4 separate regions of the Homo sapiens genome follow, and all the other regions are reported to be linked to region 4. Evidence: microRNA targets listed by miRTarBase, many of them from high-throughput screens and not tested one by one. Region 4 holds a microRNA gene; each other region holds the end of a gene's coding sequence.

Region 1 (8,231 bases), not on the chromosome of region 4:
TCTTGCTAATTCTTTGGAAACTAGCCGTGACACGTGATCACATCTTAGTAAATTTCTTGACTGTCATTTTATCACCCATTGATCCCCTAAATAAGCCAGAGTTTCCTGTCCTTTCTGTCGGGGGCTCTGCCCACATGGCTAGCAGAACAAGTTCACTCTGCAACAGTTCAGCAAACATCACCGTGCACTCAGCCCCAGGGGACACAAAGACGAATGAAGGACCTGCTCCTTCCCCTAGAGCCTGGACTCTGAGGACGCCCACAATGGCTCACACTCTGCTCCTAAAAAGCCCACGGTCAACTCAAGTTCTACAACCCCACAAACCAACCTGATGCGCTCACGAAGGCACAGAATCACTGTCTGTTAGACTTGGCAAGTTTCTGCAGCTTGGGCTGCCAGGCTGAGGAACTTCTGAAATGGGGATGAGGCTGTTCTGGGGTCCTCCCTCCAGGACTCTCCTTCTCCTTCTCTGTCTGGGGCTTTGCCTGGCATCCCACCCTCTGCCAAGGGGTGGTAGGGAGTCAGCCCATCATCTGCTGAAAACTGTGGGCCGTGGAGCTGGCTGGACCCAGGAGGGGTCAGCTATGTCTCTTTCCCCTCCCCCGAGGCACAAACGAGGAATTCAAAAATGGTTTGATATTTTAACAAACGTTCCTTTATTAGGTTACTGACTATTATCAACCATCATAAAATAGAACGGGAGTTTCAAAACTGTACAAGCCACAAGGCTCTGGGCTGGTAGGAAAGAAGGGTGGGGTCGAGGGTCCCAGGGTGTCGGGGGGTGGGAGATGCAGAGAGAGCTAGAGGGTCACCCGGCATCTGTGAGGACGGCTGGGTCAAGGCCATAAGCTGGGATCTGTACAAGGGAAACATTCATCAGAATGTGACCCACCTGAAACAGGAGGGAGGAAAATCTTTAAAAGTCTTACAGGTAAGGTCCCCTGCCCCGAAAAAAAAAACCGTCAAAATAATAAGGGGGTAATGTACATTTCTCACCCAGTCTTGGCACCAATTTTGTGCTTTAAAAAATATACTCCACTGTAAGATTTACTTAAAAAAAGGTACTCTACAGCAGCTGTTTAAAACATAATTCTTACAGACAAATATATATATATGTATGTATATATATTAAACATTTTAAACAAATAAAGTCATCTATTGTACCTGTGCAGAAATGAACCAAAGTTAGACTCTAAGAGAGTTAACTTCAAGCTCAAAGAAATGGCAAAGGCGGTGGCAGGTGCTGGGGTACGCTACGTGGAGGGGTTGCCAGGGATAGGGCACCCCTCTCTTCCGGCAGCCGAGCTACCCCTCTTGAGGCTCTGAGAGGGGTTGGGATGAACTGGGGCTGTTACCCTGGGTCCAGAGCCCCGGCTGGGGTGCTGAGCAGAGACCCGCGCTGGCTTCTGTGAGGCTCGACTCTGCTCCTGGTCTTCCCCATCCCACCCTGCCCCCGGCTTCTCGGGGAATGGAGACCCACTCGCCCTCCCTTCTTAGTTCTGGGGGTCCTCTGGCACACCCAGAGCTTCTGAGGATGCACTTGGGAAATCTCAGCTAGAAAAGCAAAAGCAAAATCAAACCCACATCAAAAGACCCACAGAAGACTAAAGAAATGCAACCCTGTGCAAGGGTGCCTGAGCCCAAGAGTTAGCTGGTTACCTGGAGACACAGGGGAATTGCTGCAGCCCTTCCAGACGGGCCCCCGAAGACACCCAGATTGCACGTGAGGCTATTTCTCCCTGAGGGGCCCGCTAGGGAACTTGGAGCAGAGCCCCCTGGAAACTGCAGGGCAAGGGACCCAGAGACATACTTGTGCCTGGGCACGTGTGCACATGTGCCCAGGGAGGGCGGGCGAGGCATACATATCCCAGGGAGGGCACAGGTGGAAGGAAAGTAACAGAACAGCCAGAGAGAGGGGACTGAAACAGGGTTTCCTTTCTAGATGGAATAAATAAATGGCTTTTGTTATTGTTAAAAGAATAAATACAGGGTACGGGGCACCGGCAGCCAGGATGGGTGCTGGGTGCTTATTTGCCTGCAGACAGTTCTTGGTTTCTGCCTTGGGGTCCATGGTGAGTTTTTGACGTCCTGAGCTTTATCTGCCATGGCATGGCCCCGCTGGGCACCCTGGGCCGGGCACCAGCCCTTGTCTAAGCACCTCTTAGTACCCCTGGTATCTGCTCTCAGAGCTGTGGTACCACCTGCCACCCCCACCACCCTGGGACCCCCAGGTGGCTGCAGCCTTCTCCCAGAGGTGTGGGAAGCACCCGTCCCACCCCGAGCAGATTGGAGCTCAATGTAGGGCTTTCGTAGGAGTTTATTCTCTGTGTCTTTTTTCAAAGAGGGGTTGTATACGGACGGCATGCAGGGATGCTGCCTTCTGCTGATGTCGGGAAGGGGGAAAGAGGAGCCTGTGTTGGAATCGGTCCTTGTCCCATGGAGGCAGCCACGGAGGATGAGGGAAGACCAGGGACCTCTGTCCATGGCTACGGATGCCGGTCCAAGGTGCAGGGTGCGGCGGCCCCAGCGGCAGGCGGCTCAGTGAGTTGGCACCAGGTGGCTGTCGCGCTGGCGGTATGATGGCGAACGTCACTGGTAGAGGAGGTAGGCCTTGAGGGAAGCCGGCAGCGGCAGCGTGTGGATCTCCCCCAGGCGCTCCCTCCCCAGGGCCAGGCGCACCGAGCGACGGCACAAATCCATGAGCGGCAGCGGCTCGGCTGGGGAGACAGAGAAACTGCAGGTCAGCGCAGCTTGGGTGGGTGTTCAGCAAACAGCGCTAACCACAGCAGCAATATTATCACTGATTAGTATTCACTCAAATCAGTAAAGAAACAATGAAAAATGCAATGCTTTTTCATTTTAAATTTAGCATGTGAATAGCTGCCACCAGGAGCCCACCCTGGGCTGGGCACCTGGGCGAGCCCTCTGCTAACACTCATTTAATCCTCACAGTGGTTTCTTATGAATGACTTAATAGTCACAGAGACACCATTACCTTCATCCCCATTTTACAGATGAGGAAACTGAGGGACAGAGTCTAAATGACTTGCCAGGGGTCGCCCTGCTGGCAGGAGATGCAGCTAGGATTCGAACCCAGGCGATCCCTGCTCTTCCCCACTGGTGACTCTGCCTGTCCAGGCAAGCAGCTGCCATTGGGGCCTGTCGGTCGGAACACATGGGAGCCAGCTCTTCCTGGCACGCACCCCCAGCACTAGCTTCAGGAAGGGAATCATTTTCTGTTACCAGCTGCTCTCAGATACCATTCTCACCTCTGTTTTAAAGCTGAAGACTAGCTGGGCATGGTGGTTCACGCTGGTAATCCCAGCATTTTGGGAGGCCAAGGTGGGTGGATCATTTGAGGCCAGGAGTTCAAGACCAGCCTGGCCAACATGGTGAAACCCCGTCTCTACTAAAAATACAAAAATTAGTTGGGCGTGGTGGTGTGTGCCTGTAATCCCAGCTACTCAGGAGTCTGAGGCAGGAGAATCGCTTGAACCTGGGAGATGGAGGTTGCAGTGGGCTGAGATCACGCCACTGCACTCTAGCTGGGCGACAGAGCAAGACTCGGTCCAAAAAAAAAAAAAAAAGAACTGAGGACACACAGGCACAGAGGGGACACCCAGTGTGCCAAGGTTCAGGGCTGGGATCTGAATCCAGGCAGCCTGGGCCCAGCGTCCATGCCCTTAGCCACTAACCATGCTGCAAAGGAAGACATGGCAAACCCTGTCCTGAATCATACGTGACAGGCCTGGCTGGCCCCACGGCCTGAAGGTGTCATTTCTGTGCCACATGGAGACAGAGAAACCCCGGGTGTCTGTGCTTCTGTCTGACAGTGAGGCTGAGGGCCCAGGCCAAGCTCAGGCCCCAGGAAACTGGAAATGCCAGCCCAGTTTCAGCTGATCCCCCAGAGCTGCCTGGGCCTTCTCCCCGCAACTGCCCCAGGCACATGGGGCTCTCTCACAGCCAGGGGAACTTGGGCAGAGCTGCCTCAGGCCCCAGGGTTACAGAGCGCTTCCAGCTGCAGCCTCCCAGGCACCTCCATCCTGTGTTCCCAGAGCGCCCAGCCTTGCCTTCCTACAAAGGAGGCTGAGTTCATTCAGCTGCATCTCAGATGAGCCGTCAGCTTCAGATCTCAGGAGTCTGAAACTCATGCCTTCCAAGGCTTCTGAGCGTTGGAAGGCTGCGCGGCCCTGCTCGCCCGCTTCGCCAGAGCAGACCCCTCTTTGCTCTCTTTCCTGAAACCAGGTAGGAGTGAGCACACCTGGACCTTCGTGGGGCCGCCCACGCTGTTCTGCAGATGGAAAGCCCTGAAACTAATGGATCTGAGGCTTCATCCACGGTCTCCCCTTGACTTTGAGACTCCTTTGTGAGCAAAATAGCCCCCAAAACTAAAAGGAACCCGCAAAACTCCATCCTACCAGTAAAAAGTGGATTAAAGTTCTTTAATATTCACCAATGTGTCTCAAATATACGAAAATCAATTACTGAAGACCAAACACTACGGGTGGGGCATGGCAGAATGGAGAGAGGCTGCTTATGGGTATAGGGTTTCTTTTTGGGGTGATGAAAATGTTCTAAAATTGTTTCCTACATCTCACCACGCAAGAGGCCACTGAATTGGATACTTTAATGGGTGAATTGTAAGGTATGTGAATTATAGCTCAGTAAAGCTGTTACAAAATAGAAGAATGGACCTTAGGCTTGATAATGCATTTACTAAACCCCAAGCTTTAAAAGAAGAGGGACCAGGTCAGGCACAGTGGCTCATACCTGTAATCCCAGCACTTTGGGAGGCCAAGGACAGAAGACTGCTTGAGCCCAGGAGTTTGAGACCAGCCTGAGCAACATAGGGAGACCTCATCGCTACAAAAAATAAAAATCAGCCAGGACTTGGGAGACTGAGGCGAGAGGATCGGTTGGGCCCAGGAGGTCAAGGCTGCAGTAAGCTGTGATTGTGCCACTGTATTCCAGCCTGCGTAACAGAGACCTTGTCTCAAAAATGAAAACAGGCCAGGTGTGGTGGCTCACGCCTGTAATCCCAGCACTTCGGGAGGCCGAGGCCGGCGCATTACCTGAGGGCAGGAGTTCAAGACCAGCCTGGCCAACATGGTGAACCCTCATCTCTACTAAAATTAGTATACAAAAATGAGCCAGGCATGGTGGCATGGGCCTGTAGTCCCGGCTACTCGGGAGGCTAAGGCAGGAGAATCACTTGAACCTGGGAGGTGGAGGTTGCAGTGACCCGAGATCACACCATCGCACTCCAGCCTGGGGTGACGGAGCAAGACTCTGTCTCAGAAAAACCAACAACAACAACGACAACAACAACAACAAAACAACAACAAAAAAACCCCAAAACTGAAAAAATAAATAAACAAAAGAAGAGGGACCACTGCTCTTCATCCCCCATGGACGGTCACAGCCACAGCTCCTGACAAGGAACTGAAATGTTCTGTATTTTTAATGGAGAATTTTGAAAGGGGGCCTTTCGTGGCCAGCTTAGGATGATTAAGAGGAGCTCTGATTGGAGACGAATGGAGGAATGAAATAACCTTGGGTTCTTTAAGGTCAAGGATCCCACAGACCCCTCGTGATGGGGTGGGACTGGGTTCCACCCACCCGGCTCCTCACAGGGTTGGGTTTCCCTCGGGTAAAACACCCAGCCTGGTGACTCCAGACCCTGCCCCGCAGCCTGACCTGGAGCACATCCCTCCGTCTGCCCGGACTTGTTTCCCCATCTGTAAGACACGGAATCCAGACCAGATTCTCCCCAAAGTCCCATGCAGCCAAGATCCTGAAGGCCAGAAGTGCTTATCGCAGCCTGTGGTCTGGCCTGGCTGTCGGGAGTAGGTCTTCTGCACAGAGGAGTGGGGAATTTGCAGGTGTGTTCTCTTCTCTGCTTGGGAGCGCGCCTGCATCTGGCCTGCATCAGGGCCAAGGGGTCTGGGCTGCCCTGAGCTCCCTCCCGGGAGAATGTGGCTCAGCCCCCGCCGGAAAGTGGAGGGGCTCTCCCTCGTGGCTGGAAAGCACCTGAGAAAGCTCCAAGAGCCACTGAATGTGGCCCAAGAGCCCTGCCAGGCTGCAGCAGTGAGGGCTGAGAGGGAGTTCAGTCACTACCCTCTTGGTGTAACGGGTTTCCAATCAACCCATGAAGAAATGTTTCTAGGCTGGACGCGGTGGCTTATGCCTGTAATCCCAGCACTTTGGGAGGCCGAGGTGGGTGATCACCTGAGGTCAGGAGTTTGAGACCAGCCTGGCCAGTGTGGCAAAACCTCATCTCTATTAAAAATACAAAAATTAGCTGGGTGTGGTCGTGCATGCCTGTAGTCCCAGCTACTTGGGAGTTTGAGGCAGGAGGATTGCTTGAACCTGGGAGGCAGAGGTTTGCAGTGAGCTGAGATTGCGCCACTGCACTACAGCCTGGGTGACAGAATGAGACTCCATCTCCAAAAAAAAAAAAATTTTCTAAAACTGCAGAGGCCCACATGAGCCCCCAGCTCCATCCAGTGCCTTATTTTGAGTGGCTGACACCGCAGCCCCAGCCCCAGCCATGGCCTGTGGGGCACCAGTCGTGTGCCTGATGGGGACTGTGACCCCAACCTACAGATAGGGAAATGGGCTTGGGGAGGTGAGAGTTACAGGTCCAAGGTCTGAGAGCCATGGACTCCAAAGGGATGAGGCCCTCCAGCTGCCACAATCCATCCCCTGTGAACGCAGCTGTGTGGGGTAGAGGACTTGCCACAGCCTGGCCATCTCTGGATCTCACTGAATAAACCAGTTAGGGATGGGTCATGGGATCCACCAAGACGGGCTAGAGAAGTGGCAGTGAATGGCTGCAGTGATGTGTTATGAGCTGAAAATAGGACCAGAGTCACCCAGGCATCCTGTGAATGGGTCTCTTCTCTGGGTCCTCAAGTACATAAACAGGTCACGCCTCCTTGATCTTGCAGGAGGAAACTGATGGCGCATAGGGCCCGGTCTAACTGCTTTCCAAAGGCTGGGCAGAGACCAAGAATGCATGGCCACAGAAACAGACGTGGGCTTCGTGCCGTGAAAAAATGCCCAGCCCCCATTTCAGCTGGTCACTACCAGTACCAGGGAGTTCTCCCCAACCTCCACACTCTTGACTGGGGGCTGCCAGCTTTGCACCCAGCTCCAGCCACAAACCCAGGTGCCTGCTGAAATCTACCGAGGGGGTGGGCACCTGCACTGTGGCCTGGGGCCTCTGGCTGCTATGCCCATCCCCAGGAAGCTTAGGCGCTCATTCATTTAAATAATTTCTGTGAATGAGAGTGCAATGCTGAATGAGCAGCAAAGAAATCAGGAAGTCAATCAGGCGCTATTTCTGGGAGCAGAAGCCTGAGGAACTGGAAGAGACAGTGCACCAGCTTCCACATTTCTGTGAGAAACGGCTACCTGGTGGCCCACGTGAACATGCACAGCCCCAGAGCCCCAACCCACAACTGTCTCACTGTTCCCCGAGAGATTTCAACCCAACTCAAGCCTCAAGAGTGTGGTGCTGTGCCCAGTTCACGGGCTGAGTGAACGAGCTGCAGAACGGTGAGGTCAAGGAAAAATGTTCCGCATCAGAGAATGCCCCGGCTTCCGCAATGTCCTCGCTGACAGCTGTCATGGCTCCTGTGGCTGGCCCTGCAAGCAGCTTGTGGGGACCACGCTCCAGGACATGGATTCTAGAATGTCACGGGTCGGGTGGCCATCATAGGATGTGTGTGTGTTTTCCTCTACACTACGCAGTTCTTACGAAAGAGCACAGCCAAACACAACGTGGAGCCTTTGTCCTTGTCAACTGGGGAAGGACGCCTGAGATCCACCTAGGTGATCAGACACCCTTGGTCCCCTATCCCCCCCAAACTCTGAGAGCCTGCGGTCCTCATATGACCAGAACTTCTGGAGGGTGTGGGGAATAGGGTCTGGGACAACCCCTCCCCGACATGGAAGGAAGGAAGGAAGGGAGGGAGGGAGGGTGGGTGGCCCTGGTGGCGGTGTATCAGTCTCCCGATGAGTAGCTCCCGGCAGAGTCCAGCTGGAGTGGAGTGCAGGAAGGAGGCACCCGGGAGGAGGCTCTGATCTTGAGGAGACGAGCTGACCTTCCCTGAACCTTCAACCACGACAAACCACACCAAACCCATCTGGGAGCCGTTAAAGAAAATTCGAAAATGCTGAACTGCATGGAAGATGCCTCCTCAGTGGGAGATGTCTTTAAAGCAGTG
Region 2 (3,000 bases), not on the chromosome of region 4:
CCAAAGAGCTGTCAGAAATCTTTGATCCCACACGAGGTAGGCTGCTGCATTCCTCCCTGAGGCTAGGGGTAAGGGACACAGCTCATTGGGTCCTATGGCTGTTTTCTTGCCCTTTTGAGGACCTTGTTGTGGCGCTTATGGTAACTGGGGCAAAGGGTGAAGTTCCTGATGGGCAGGTGGGGTTCCCTTTCCTGGGCTTTGGTGGGTGGAGAGGTGGGAGCTGGAATGTTAGTAACTGAGCTCCCTCCATTCCCAGAGTGCATGAGCTCGGAGCTGCTGGAGGAGTTGATGTCCTCAGAAGGTGGGTGGCCCTGGAAGGTGGGAGTGGGTGTGGGCAGGGGTTGGGCTGCTGCTAGGGGAGCCCTGGCCCAGGGCCTGAGACTAGTGCTCTCTGCAGTGTTTGCCCCTCTGCTTCGTCTTTCTCCACCCCCGGGAGACCACGATTATATCTACAACCTGGACGAGAGTGAAGGTGTCTGTGACCTCTTTGATGTGCCTGTTCTCAACCTCTGACTGACAGGGACATGCCCTGTGTGGCTGGGACCCAGACTGTCTGACCTGGGGGTTGCCTGGGGACCTCTCCCACCCGACCCCTACAGAGCTTGAGAGCCACAGACGCCTGGCTTCTCCGGCCTCCCCTCACCGCACAGTTCTGGCCACAGCTCCCGCTCCTGTGCTGGCACTTCTGTGCTCGCAGAGCAGGGGAACAGGACTCAGCCCCCATCACCGTGGAGCCAAAGTGTTTGCTTCTCCCTTTCTGCGGCCTTCGCCAGCCCAGGCTCGGCTGCCACCCAGTGGCACAGAACCGAGGAGCTGCCATTACCCCCCATAGGGGGCAGTGTCTTGTTCCTGCCAGCCTCAGTGTCTTGCTTCTGCCAGCTCCTTCCCCTAGGAGGGAAGGGTGGGGTGGAACTGGGCACATGCCAGCACCACTTCTAGCTTCCTTCGCTATCCCCCACCCCCTGACCCTCCAGCTCCTCCTGGCCCTCTCACGTGCCCACTTCTGCTGGGCCTTTAGCCCTAGAACCTGCAGGTGGTGGGGGCGGCTACCAAGAAGGAACAGAGGTCTCTGGGGAGGAGTCTGGGTGGTCCAGCCCTGATGATTGGCCCCACCTCCTGCTGCCCCATAACCCTCTCTTCATTTCGGCTTTTTCATTTACCCTCATTTAGAGCCATTTGCAGAGATTTAGAAAGATTTACAGTAACGAATGGATTCCTATATAAAGATTATTTTTATACTTTTTGCAGCAAAAGGAAATTGTAATATTTGTACAGTGTTCAAGTGAATAAAAACCATGCCTAAGGCTAGCTCTGATGTGGTTCTTTGGGGACCCTCCTTGGGACTGTGCTGGACTGGCAGTGTGATTGGGTGGGTCACCTTGCTGGAACTAGGGGTGGGGCGGCCTCCGGCAGCCTGCCCTCCCCGCCCCCACCTGCCGCACCTTGGTGTGGGGCGGGGCCGCCTCGGCGGGGCGGGGCAGGCGGAGCCGTCCTACCTTCCTACCCCCAGACTCCAACCCGGAACTAACCTCGGCTCCCTTGGGAAGGCCGCGTTGCATGGCCAGGAGCAGCAGTCTGGGCCGCGAGTGCGGGACACCGAGGTCAGGTCTCGGAAAGGGAGGACCTCCTCGTCCCCAGGGGCCCCAGGCCAGGTGCACCCTTGGCCGCAGGTGCACGGTCTCCGGAAAGTGCAGGCGCCCACGTCCCAGCTGGACCATGGCGCCTCCGCGGAACGTGGTGAAGATTGCCATCAAGATGCGTGACGCCATCCCGCAGCTCATCCAGCTGGACCAGGTCACCCGGCTGGTCCCGCCTCCATCTGCCCCACTGCCCCACCTCCCGGTAGCCCCCTGGCCCTCGGGGCAGCCCGCCCCACCCCTCCCCCCAGGCTCCTCCCCATCCCTCCCTGCCCAGGCCGCGAGAATGACCACTCCACTTGCAGGCGAAGCCCCTGGCCGCTGTGCTGAAGGAGGTGTGCGACGCGTGAGTGCTGCCGGGCCAGGGCCTGCGGAGGGCGGGAGGGCAGGAGGGGCGGCGCCCCCTGCCGGCCTCGCTGAGCCTCGTGCCCCTCAGGTGGAGCCTGACGCACTCTGAGCGTTACGCCCTGCAGTTTGCGGATGGGCACCGGAGATACATCACCGAGAATGTGAGTCCCCTCTCCCCAGCCCCAAGCTCGGCCTTCCGACCCCTCTAACCCACCTGGCCCCGATAACTCTGGCTCTTCATCCCACTACCGGAGCGCGATCTGTTATTCACCCCCAGCCGCCCTCACCGACACCCCAGTTGATCAGTCCTCGGAGCCCTCCCTGACCTCGCTGCCTTTTCTGCTGTCTTCTCCAGAACCGCGCGGAGATCAAGAATGGCAGCATCCTGTGCCTCAGCACGGCCCCAGTAATGCCCCTCCCGTCCCGCCTTCCCCATCCCTGCCCCTTTGCTCCAGGTCCAGAGGCCCCCCGCCCCGGAGGCCCCCGCCCCAGCCCTGCCTTGCGCCACCTAGTTGACGCCCGGGGCCGCACACTTCCAGGTCCCACCCTTACCATGCCCAGCCTCTTCACCTCTGCTCCTGCTCCGTTCCTGCCAGGACCTTGAGGCTGAGCAGCTCTTGGGTGGGCTGCAGAGTAACAGTCCTGAAGGGCGCCGGGAAGCCCTGAGGCGCCTTGTTCCGCTGGCCTCGGACATGATCTTTGCCAGGGAGGTCATCAGCCGTAATGGGCTCCAGATACTAGGCACCATCATTGAAGATGGGGACGAGTGAGCACAGGGATGTGTGGGCTGGGGGAGATGGTGGGTCTTTCTGGTCCTGGGGTGGTCCTGCTCAGCCCCAGATGTCCCCCCTCCAGCCTAGGAGAGGTGCTGGCCCTCAGCCTGAGGGCCTTCTCAGAGCTCATGGAGCACGGCGTGGTGTCCTGGGAGACTCTGAGCATCCCCTTTGTGAGGAAGGTGGGTGGGCTTTCCTAGGGCAGCGGGTGGGGGCAGTGGAGCAGTGGGGCAGTGGTAGAC
Region 3 (8,303 bases), not on the chromosome of region 4:
ACACGGATCACCTGAGGCAGGGGTTGCAATGAGCCGAGAGCACATCAACTGCTCTCCAGCCTGGGTGACAGAGCAAGACTTTGTCTCAAAAAAAAAAAAAAAAAAAAAAAAAAAAAAAAAAAAAAAAAAAAAATTAAAATGCTTTGAACTTTAACATATCAGCCAACTTGTTTAGCAACATCATCAACTGATTCTCTTTTAAGCTTTTGGATCACAGGAGCCGTGTATTCAGCCAGTTCAGGAATAGCATGCCTGTCTCTCATAATTCTTGGCAAACAACTGCATTATCAAACAAATGTCAGCAGGAGGGTGGGGTGGGGGGCGGTAGAGGCAATTGGGAAATAAGACCCTAGTGAATTACTGTTCTCTGTCCACTTTCCATTCTAAACATGGGGAATGTGGATTCTATTATTAAAGCCATGGAATTTATAGGTAAATTCCATCACCACCTCTGGCTATTAAGGCACCCCAATTTTTCTTTCTAACCAATGTGTAAAAAATGTCTTTAAATGTAAGCAATCACAGGTGGTTAATGTTTAACTTTTTATTAAGAAACTAAGGCAAAACAACAGAATTCCAAAAAATAAAGATACAGAATTCTAATTTAAATTCTAAACAAATATAAAAATCAGAGTTTACCAGTATTTTTGAGTAGAGGGGAGTGGCTAAATGCATTCACAGTAATTATTTCTTCCTTACCAGCCTCAAGTTTGCAACCCTTTCCTTCCTGCTTCACTGGGACTAGAACAGAATTTCTCATTCATCTTTTGCTACTATAATTTTTGCTTCTATAGTCTAAAACTTCAGAGGAGCTTTTGTCTTTCTCCGCAGTTCTTTCTCTGTTCCTTCAGCAAATATGTGAGCACCTGCCTATTGGGCTTACATGTTGTGGCACAAAGATGAGTCCGTTAGAGATCCTGTCCCAGTTTAGGGGCGATATGACACCAATAAATAATCAATAAATAATTTTAAACAAGGTATAAATAAATACAGCATGAGTCAACTATAGATATATAAAACTAGGGAAATTTCAAGGAGAGATTACATTCAGCTAGAGAAACTGAGGAATGTTTTTGAGGACAGCATTTGGGCTGGGTGTGGGCTGTTCCTAATAAAGGCTTCCAAGTGGTCCTGATTATCTACCACAGTCCCAATTGTGGAACTGTGGTGGTCTCAATTTCTGGAAAGTAATCTTTTCAATGCTAACCTTTAAAACTCCTTAAATTTCTGGCCTGGCACGGTGGCTCGCGCCTGTAACCCCAGCACTTTGGGAGGCGAGGTGGGTGGTGTTGGCCAGGAGTTCAAGACCAGCCTGGCCAACATGGCATAAACCCCCTCTACTAAAAATACAAAGATTAGGCCCGGGAACAGTGGCTCATGCCTGTAATCCCAGCACTTTGGGAGGCTGAGGTGGGTGGATCACAAGGTCAGGAGTTCGAGACCAGCCTGGCCAACATGGTGAAACCCCGTCTCTATTAAAAATACAAAAATTAGCCAGGCATGGTGGCAGGTGCCTGTAATCCCAGCTACTCGGGAGACTGAGGCAGGAGAATCACTTGAACCCGGGAGGCAAAGGTTGCAGTGAACTGAGATCACACCACCGCACTCCAGCCTGGGCAACAGAGCAAGACTCCGTCTAAAAGAAAAAAGAAAAAAATTAGCCAGGTGTGGTGGCACATGCTACTCGGGAGGCTGAGGCACGAGAATTGCTTGAACCTGGGTGGCAAAGGTTGCAGTGAGTCAAGATCGTGCACTCCAGCCTGCGTGACTCTGTCTCCAAAAAAGAAACACACACACCACTCCCTAAGTTTCTATCTCTTCAAATTACTCACTTCTTCAAAATAACAAAAAAAAATTAATATTAATATGACAATCTACATAGTTTGGGGATTTAAAAGTTAAAGCTGGGTATAGTGGCATACACCTGTAATCCCAGCTACTTGGGAGGCTGAGGCAGGAAGACTGCTTGAGCCCAGGAGTTCAAGACCTGCCTAGGCAGTAGAGTGAAACCCTGTCTCCAAAAACAAACAAAAGTTCATTATACAGTAGTAGTTTCTTTATGGTTTAGGGCTCTGCTATTTTTGAAACTCTTTCTCCAGTCAAATAATTCTAAAAGGCAGAAAATGCCTAATCACTGAACAATGATTTTAAATATTAACTGGGTAAATCTTACTTTCTTTTGGTGTCTTATTGAATCCATATCTACACTTTATGTGAATGAGGGAGATGAAATAAATGGCTTAACATTTAAGTCAAATAATGAGAAAATAATGGCAACTATGAAATGACATTAACCACAAATTCCTTGTATGAAAAGATTTAATGAATTATGAGCCATTGATCATTACAAACTTTAAGCCTTAATATTTCTTCTTTCCTATGTAAAACCAGGTAATTAAAACAGCCTGTCTCAGTATGACAGAAGACCATAGTAGGGATAATAGTAACGTCTGCTTCCACATCTGCATGCTTCGTTAACCAACCAAAGAAAGTGCTCCAGGTTTCCCAAGTCAACAAAGTATACTCAGTTACACTTTCCCTGATCATACTATGAATTGAAACAGAACACTCCTTTGACTTTTAATAGCACTTTTCATCCACGGCACAAGCACTTTCCCATTATTTTCTCCTTTACCCTCAATATCCTTGTGAGGTAGTGAAGGGAGGGAGCAAGGATTTTTTTTTTTCTATTTTGCAGATGAGAAAACTCAAGGTGAATTTTACAACAGTGGTTCTCAACCTTGGCAGCATATTGAAATGACCAGAAAGTTTTTAAAAATCCTTATGACCAGCTCATATTCCAGACCAACATCAGAATCTTGGCATACGGAACCCAAGCATCGATGTGTCTTCCAACATTCCAAAGTGACTACAAAGTGTATACAGCCAACACTGAGAACCACTGGTTTGAATGATTTACACTCAATCTTCAGGCGCAACTGTCTTCTACCGAAATGCTCTCCTCAGCACCAATGACAAAGATATTCCATCTCCTTGAGCACTGCAGCAGTTTAAGATTTTGTAGAGCTACTACTGGGTTTTAGTGACAAATTTACGTAAATGAAGGCCCTCATGACCCAGATGCTCATGCTGCTCACTTCAATTGCATATGATTTGCGAATGGGACATTCGGGAATTTAAATCTTTGAGATAAGAATGGCTTGTTGTTAAATATTGAGGCAATTATTTCATTCTAGGTCCAATACGCAATAACCATGTGTTTCGGTTTTCCACTCAGCACCTTCAAAACTGTTGCAAATGAATGTTTACTAACAAGACAAAAGAGACAATTATAAACCAAACTCTCAACAAAATTCGGAATGGCCACATCACAACCTGAAAAAGAAACAAGTACTTAAAGGACTTGATCACTTCCTAACAAGTCCATCTTCAACCTGAACCACTTCTCTTGTTTAATCAAATTTTAAACTTTGCCGAACTGAGTTGTTCTACACCAAGAAAAATCAATTTCTATACCACCTACATTCTCTAATACATTTAACATATAATTTCACTCAATACAAGGAGGTTTCTTCTTAACCTGGACATCGAAAAGAATCTTTAACAGATTTCATCTTTTCAAGCAATGTATCAAATACACAATAAATACTTGTAAACTTTTCAGGTGGCAACAATAAATCTTTGTTCTATGGCTGAAATCCCTTGCTTCACAGGAGTATTGACAATCTTAACTCCCAAGGAGCAATCCAAGAATCCCGGCCAGCTGCTGGGTGTCCCTAATCAGATTTAAAACAAAACATACATACAGCAAGAACTCAGAAGTACAAAGATTTCGCTCGCTTTTGTCAATTCTTATGTATCTAAAACCATACAATTTATACTTTCATACAGAAAGATGTCTGTTTCTTTTCTAACAAAAGAAAAACTCTCAGCTCATGTGGGTTGGATTATTAATTCAAAAGCATTTTAGTGATGAGAAACAAGATTTGTAAGTCAAAATAGGAGTTAATGTTAAACTCTTCTACAACGAAACCTTCAAATATTGCCAACCTGAAGTTTTCAGCACAAGGTGTTGTATTTCAAGTCCCATGGGGGCAATTATCTATAATGAGATTAAGAATATTCTTAACCTGTTTCAGCTGGGTAAGTAAACGTTTTCTTTATAGCCCCAATAACGAGTTTGAGGCTTAGATTAGTTGCATGATGTAAACAATATGAAATTAAAATTTTTTTGATAATATCTACAGCATTTATAAGGTTACAAAATAAAAGGACCATTAATCAATTCTTTTTTTCCTAGGCTCTATGACTAATAGCTTTCATATTTGAGGCCTACAAGAGCAAATGGCAATGTTCTGTGTTATGAGACACTTTCTTAGAAGGCCAAAAATAAAACTGGATACCAAAAGATACACATTACTATTATGTTGAGATCATCCTTACTGATATATGTATAATTAGAAATAGATTTGCCTTCCTTCAATCTTTAGCCAGGAGACTGAGAGATCTTTACTATGATTTTGAGAGTAAAAACAAAAACAAACCAGACTCTAACAGCTATGGGAACTGTAAGCCAAAAATAATACAAAATGAGTCAATACAACACATCTCCTCTTAAAATCCTCTTCTTTGTAGTTAACCCAGTTGTCCCCAAATGTTATTCCAATTTTGTAACCATGTAGTGGTTTTTAAGAAATTAGAACTAGAACAAAACAACCTGTTTGTCCTTTCTTTTTTACAGTTTTTTTTTTTTACACACATATTATATACAACTTTTAAAATAGCTGCACAATTTTATATCTCACTTTTAGAGAAGTGCAGTCCAGGCAGACCATGCTTCTCAATATATTAAAAATATTAAATAAAACCCAACCAGTTTCATACTTTTCTAATAGTCAAGCTGGCTGGAAAAAAAAGGACTGGAGAAAGAACAGGCAGTTGTAAAATGGGATCAGTCTTCACAAACACACTACTTAAAAATCTTGCTATTTCCTTATCCCTTTGACAGCATCTCTACAATCTCACCTTTAAAGCTGGAAATAACACATTGCTAACTTAGAGACAACATCGGGTGCAACATGCATATGTCAACTGCCCACTCAACCAACTGCAACCCTGAGGATTTTTCTGGCCCAGTAGAAAGAGGAAACACGAAGATAATCTCTGCTGTAGAGCTGCTTCTCCAGTTTACGACTTCATGTGTTTTCAGGATGTTTCTTGGACATGCATGTGTGACAGTCACTTCATGGTTCTACTTCCCATAAGCAGATCTCTCCTCCATTCTGTCTGTCATCACAAGAAAGCCACTGTCATCCGTCCAAAGGTTTTCCAAGGTAAACCAAAGTCACTTCTGTGTTGCCATATACAGCAGAAACTGCTGGGTATAAGCAGACCTTTGGAAGTCCTCTAAAAGCAACCCCCAGGAACTCATATCCACGTTCAAAAGCTAAAGTCTTATCTTCCATGTCCAAGATGACTCGAATTCTTTCTCCTATCTGCAAACAGATATCAAAAGGTTAGAAGAAAATCTGCCAAGGGTGTAGCTAGAAGAAACAAGACACAAATCAAGAAGTTGAAAATATTAAGAATATTATCCTGAAAGCTATCTAGAAAAATCAGAAGGGAAGCTTTCTAGTCAGGAAGAAACATCTATAAAAAAAGGACATACATCTGGCCGGGCATAGTGGCTCATGCCTATAATCCCAGCACTTTGGGAGGCTGAGGCGGGCGGATTGCTTGAGCCCAGGAGTTCAAGACCAGCCTGGGCAACATGGTGAAAACCCATCTCTATTAAAAATACAAAAATTAGCTGGGTGTGGTGGCGCAAAGCTGGTATCGCACCACTGCCCACTGCACTCCAGCCTAGGTAACACATCACAAATGCTTACTTTGATAGTTTTGTTTTTAAGACTCACATGGAATCTACACTTAATTACTTACAATTTAAATGTTCCACCTGAACACTACCTAGATTGATTTTATTTACTCTTTGTTTAAAGGTTTTTCTTAAGGTTAACACTAAAATCTATAACTTGGCATATTTTACCAAAAAGAGCAATCTAAATCAGCTTCTCAAATTACTATACTATACATACAACGGAACTTTTTTTTTTTTTTTTTTTGAGACGGAGTCTTGCTCTGTCGCCCAGGCTGGAGTGCAGTGGTGCAATCTCAGCTCACTGCAAGCTCCGCCTCCCGGGTTCATGCCATTCTCCTGCCTCAGCCTCCCCAGTAGCTGGGACTACAGGTGCCCGCCACCACGCCCGGCTAATTTTTTGTATTTTTAGTAGAGACGGGTTTCACCGTGTTAGCCAGGATGGTCTCCATCTCCTGACCTCGTGATCCACCTGCCTCAGCCTCCCAAAGTGCTGGGATTACAGGCATGAGCCATCGCGCCCGGCCGTACAATGGAATATTATTCAGCCATAAACAGAAATGAAATTTTGATATATGCTACAACATAGATAGACCCTGAAAATATTATGCTAAGTGAAATGAGCCAGACACAAAAGGCTAAATGGTATGATTCCACCTATATAAAGTATCTAGAATACTCAAATATATATAGTTGTAGAGCAGAGTTTACCAGGGGTGGGGAGTGAAGGAAATAGGGAATGAACATAATAGAGATTATGTTGGGGTGAGGAAAAAGTTTTGGGTATAGAGAGAGGTGTGTGAATGTATTTAATGCCACTGAATTGTATACTTACAAATGGTTAAAATAATAAATATGTATGTTTCACCACAATTTTAAAAATCACCTTAGTAAGACACACAGCTTTTAAAGTTTACAAAGCAGTTCCACATGTAATGTGGAATCATGAATAATCCAATCTGGCTACAAATTCTAATGTAGAATATAGAATAGGCTTATTAAACAATTTGTGGTTCACAACTCTGAAACACCTGTTTGTTATAAAAAACAGCAGCACTGATTATTAAACGAAACTGGAAGCAGAATATATCCAGTTTTTTCCCATTTGGAAAAGTAAGCAAAAAAAAAAAAAGGATGTTTCATCTTTTTAGTTTGCCTTTATAAAAAGATGTTGCATCTACAAAATTGGAAACAGAAAGTCCTAATGTTTGCAATCAAAATTTAATTCTACCTGATTATAACCCCTACTATTGTCATTTACTTTCCTTCACTGTATTTCCTGTTAACAGTAACTGCCAACATCTGCTTTTTTCCTCCCTTTGCCCACCTCACAGATTAACCCACACCTCATTTTATGGATCTAAGAACCTCCAAATCATCATCACCACCACTCCTACCAACAAAATATTAACAAAGTAGAAATGAAAAGCTAATTTTGTTGGGTATTTGTGTTGTGTCGTATTTGTATTATCCCATTTAATCCTCACACTAATCCTAGGAACTATCCCTATTTTACAGAAGTTGAAACTAAGTAACGATTACTCCTGGTGAAATCTGCAAATCTGCTTCACCTTTGAGCACACAGCACGCACAAAGCCCAGGGTGGAGAAAGCGAAGTCTTACCATCTTTAGGTGCTGGGGTAAAACGTGGGGAGATGGCAGAGCAACTGGAAACTTAGAGGAGGAACTCCAGAAGCAACAGAACCACAGAAAGGATGAACCCCAAAATCTGAGAATTAACTTCCCAAATCCCTGAGTGACCACTATATTACAAAGGCACAGGGTAAACCTCCAGGACTAAAAAAGCAGCAAAGCTGAAAAAACTGAGCAGACATTAGCTGCCACACATCACATGAGACAGAGTTTATAGTTTGAGTATAGGCAAGTTAACTGCCTACTAAAACAAGAAAACCTATACTTTTCAGAGAATAAAGCAGTTTCTAGAAACAAAACATTCAGGAGTTACTACTACATATTATCTACACATCTAGGTTTCAGTTAAAAAAATTACTAGATATGAAAAGAAACAGGAAAGCGTGATTCATATTTAGGGGAAAAAAGCAATCAACAGAAGCTGAATCCAAGTGGTCCTAAGTGTTGGATTTGGTAAAGACTTCAAAGCAGCTGTTATGAATATGTCCAAAGATTTTTTTACAAATATAGTATAAGTAAATAAATAAGGAATCTCGAAAAGGAAATTTACTCTAAAAAAGAACCAGGCCCAGTGTGGTGGCTCACGCCTGTAATCCCAGTACTTTCACTTTGGGAGGCCGAGGCGGGCGGATCACGAGGTCAAGAGATCGAGACCATCCTGGCCAACATGGTGAAACCTCATCTCTACTAAAAATACAAAAATTAGCTGGGCATGGTGGCACACACCTGTAGTCCCAGCTACTCAGGAGGCTGAGGCAGAAGAATCACTTGAACCCGGGAGTCGGTGGCTGCAGTGAGCCCAGATCGTGCCACT
Region 4 (3,000 bases):
GAGGTTTTCCAGCAGCAGCTACCGCTCTTCTTGGAGAGGTGAGGGGGAGCCCATGTGGGAATCTCTGGGGGTCAGTGTGTTCCTGGTACCCGGGCCCACTGTAATCAGGTGGCGCTGGTTCTATCTCAGGTTGGGGACCTTAGCTTTTCTAGGCTGAAAGAATGGAGCCCTTCTGTTCAGTGGTGTCCATCTGGGCCCTGGACTCTGGATTTGACAGAGGCCCTGAAGGGGAGGGCCATGGAGTTGTGCTTGTGTGTCATGTGCACGGTCCTGGTTTACTGTGCACCTTCTCTAACTAGATCCTTAGCCAAGGGCTTCACATACAGCGTGGTTATGTTTATTAATGAGTCTGTCTTATGAAGTGACCCTTGTATGCTGAAAATTCAGGTATATTTGTACCAAAGATATGGAAAGAAAAAAGAAGGGAGGAAAATTTGGGTGTAACTTTTGACTCCCTCAGAGCTTAACTACTAATAGCTTGCTGTTGGCTAGAAGCTTTACTGATAACATAATACATATTTTTTATGTTATACGTATTATATACTGTATTCTTAAAGTAAGCTAGATAAAAGAAAATGTATTAAGAAAATCATGAGGAGAAAATATGTTTACTATTCATTAGGTGGAAGTGGATCATCATAAAGATATCTATCCTTCACGTTGAGTAGGCTGAGGGCGGGGGTTGGGCTTGCTGTCTCGGGTGGCTAAGGCTGAAGAAAATAAATGTGTAAGTGAACTTGCACGATCCAGACATGTGTTGTTTAAATGTCAGCTGTATTTTACCACCCAAGTTGTGAGGTTCAGGCATGATGTTTTTCATGTATGGGATTATTAGCACAGTGCCTGGCACAGAGTCATTACTCCACGTGTGGCAGCCATTTTCACTTTTGCCATCTATATTTCCCACATTACCCCTGAGGATGGGATGATATTGTTCCCATTTTATAGATGAAAGAACTGAGGCTCCGAGAGATGGGGTTGCTTACCCAGGGATGAGTAACAGTAGAGCTGGGATTTAATGCCGTCTGACTTTTGAGCTGTGCCATGTCAGTGGCTGGGTTGAGGCTTGCTAAACCAGCTCAGGGATTGGGCCAGTCTTGCCTCCTGTGGTCATTTATGGCAGCTCCTGGTGTTTGCCTCCAAGGTGTCCCCACCCAGTGACTCTGGCCGGCATGCTGGAGATGGGTGTCTCCTACCTGCCTGTCAACCAGAACTGGGAGCGTTACCTGGCAGAGGCACAGGGCACTTATGAGGAGCTCCAGCGGGAGATGAAGAAGTCGTTGATGGATCTGGCCAATGATGCCTGCCAGCTGCTCTCAGGAGAGAGGTAGCCAGGCCTTGGGTGGGCAGGATCTAGGCAGGGGACTGGCAGGTGGGCGGCCTAGCCTTCGGCTTAGCCTTAGCCCTGCCCTAGTGGACTGGCTCTGTAGGTACAAAGAAGACCCCTGGCTCTGGGACCTGGAGTGGGACCTGCAAGAATTTAAGCAGAAGAAAGCTAAGAAGGTGAAGAAGGAACCAGCCACAGCCAGCAAGTTGCCCATCGAGGGGGCTGGGGCCCCTGGTGATCCCATGGATCAGGAAGGTGGGGAGCATGGGTGGGAGGTAGGGTAGGGTAGGGGTTGTCTCTGGGAAGGTCCTGTGATTGAGGGGGTCCTTCGAAAGGATTGCTCCAGCCTTCTGGAGATGAGCGGGTGGGAGCAGATCTTATTGAGAGTTCCTTCTCCTGCTCCTGATTGTCTTCCCCCACCCTCACAGACCTCGGCCCCTGCAGTGAGGAGGAGGAGTTTCAACAAGATGTCATGGCCCGCGCCTGCTTGCAGAAGCTGAAGGGGACCACAGAGCTCCTGCCCAAGCGGCCCCAGCACCTTCCTGGACACCCTGGGTGAGCCCTGCCCACCCCCAGCAGTGTATCTAGAGTCTACCCTTGCTCCATTCTCAGGACAGCCCTGGTCTGGGTTCTGGCACAGAGGCATCATGCACATGTATACTTATTGACCTGCTGCCATTCAGTCACACTGTCTTCCAGTCCTATTCTCATTTGCTCACTCTGGACCGGCTCACTGGACTCATTCAGCACAGTGTTGTGAGCACCTGCTGTGCAATGGCCCGTGGCAGCCACCGGGTGTACACACTGGAGCATAGCTCCTCCTTTCCAGTAGTTCTTTTTCCTAGGAGGAGCCAGGCACGTAGACCAGCCAGTGCAGCTAGTGTCCATAGGTAGAGTTCTGACTCTGCCTCGGGAAATAAATCAAGAAGGCTTCCTTGAGAAGGTGCCCCTTCCTTTGAGCCTCATAGGGTGGCAGAGATGAGAAAAAGGGCAGCCAGGGTGAGCAGCAGGGTGCCAGCTTTGCACCTGCAAGACCCTGAGAGCAAGTGTCCTGAGTGCCTTGCTAGTCTCACCCTGGGCTCAACTCTGGTGAACAGCCTGCAAGAGAGCACCCAGAAGGACTGGTGTTTCTCTAGAGGGGTGGGGAGGGCAGATCTGCTCCCTCCTCTGGTCAGTTACCCTGGATGAAATGGAGCTTGGGAAGGAGCCCTGCCCTGGGTCAGGGTATGCTTTTGTGTCCTGGCTTCTGACTAGTCCAGTGGGACTGACTTAGTGTCTTTGCTTTTGAAATATTCTTCTAGAGGATTCCATGGGGGTCCTGGCTAAAGCATCCCAGAGGAGGGGATGGCGGCTGTAGGCTGGGGTCACCAGAAAGCCCCAGGGCTTTGGAGGGTGGGTGGGGACATTGTGAGAGAGAGAACCTTCCCCCCAACAACTGCCCTTACCATCGTGACACTGCTGTCTTCCTGCTGGGACGTAGATGGTACCGGAAGCTCTGCCCCCGGCTAGACGACCCTGCATGGACCCCGGGCCCCAGCCTCCTCAGCCTGCAGATGCGGGTCACACCTAAACTCATGGCACTTACCTGGGATGGCTTCCCTCTGCACTACTCAGAGCGTCATGGCTGGGGCTACTTGGTGCCTGGGCGGCGGGACAACCTGGCCAAGCTGCCG

What was found. The annotated mature microRNA hsa-miR-6766-5p reads CGGGUGGGAGCAGAUCUUAUUGAG and lies in region 4 at 1,689-1,712, shown strand. An mRNA with a match to its seed (bases 2 to 7 or 8) in the 3' UTR can be bound and repressed. Matches are read on the target gene's strand: a 7mer-m8 pairs with bases 2 to 8, a 7mer-A1 pairs with bases 2 to 7 and ends in A, and an 8mer does both.
Region 1: the mRNA of SPSB1 is a reported target of hsa-miR-6766-5p. Seed matches in the 3' UTR shown: 7mer-m8 at 780-786 and 7mer-m8 at 750-756.
Region 2: miRTarBase lists E2F4 as a target of hsa-miR-6766-5p. Seed matches in the 3' UTR shown: 7mer-m8 at 582-588, 7mer-A1 at 788-794 and 7mer-m8 at 955-961.
Region 3: the mRNA of FBXO45 is a reported target of hsa-miR-6766-5p. Seed matches in the 3' UTR shown: 7mer-A1 at 1,718-1,724, 7mer-A1 at 1,412-1,418 and 7mer-A1 at 1,281-1,287.

What each region holds. Positions count from the first base shown.
Region 1 is chr1:9,361,934-9,370,164 of GRCh38, reverse strand. SPSB1 (splA/ryanodine receptor domain and SOCS box containing 1) reads right to left here. Exons shown (of 3, transcript NM_025106.4): 3 at 633-2,717. The coding sequence ends at 2,590. Among named protein-coding and RNA genes, the nearest start is that of LINC02606, 63 kb to the left of the region's middle.
Region 2 is chr16:67,197,611-67,200,610 of GRCh38, forward strand. E2F4 (E2F transcription factor 4) reads left to right here. Exons shown (of 10, transcript NM_001950.4): 8 at 1-36; 9 at 257-301; 10 at 398-1,308. The coding sequence ends at 513. ELMO3 (engulfment and cell motility 3) reads left to right here and starts at 1,521. Exons shown (of 20, transcript NM_024712.5): 1 at 1,521-1,794; 2 at 1,943-1,983; 3 at 2,074-2,146; 4 at 2,341-2,391; 5 at 2,582-2,751; 6 at 2,841-2,940. The coding sequence starts at 1,717. RefSeq lists a silencer at 857-916.
Region 3 is chr3:196,581,286-196,589,588 of GRCh38, reverse strand. It overlaps FBXO45 (F-box protein 45), which reads right to left. Exons shown (of 3, transcript NM_001105573.2): 3 at 530-5,456. The coding sequence ends at 5,271. Among named protein-coding and RNA genes, the nearest start is that of FBXO45, 17 kb to the right of the region's middle.
Region 4 is chr15:89,325,494-89,328,493 of GRCh38, reverse strand. MIR6766 (microRNA 6766) reads left to right here and starts at 1,684; the gene lies at 1,684-1,755. It overlaps POLG (DNA polymerase gamma, catalytic subunit), which reads left to right. Exons shown (of 23, transcript NM_002693.3): 6 at 1-38; 7 at 1,145-1,327; 8 at 1,431-1,582; 9 at 1,756-1,882; 10 at 2,808-3,000.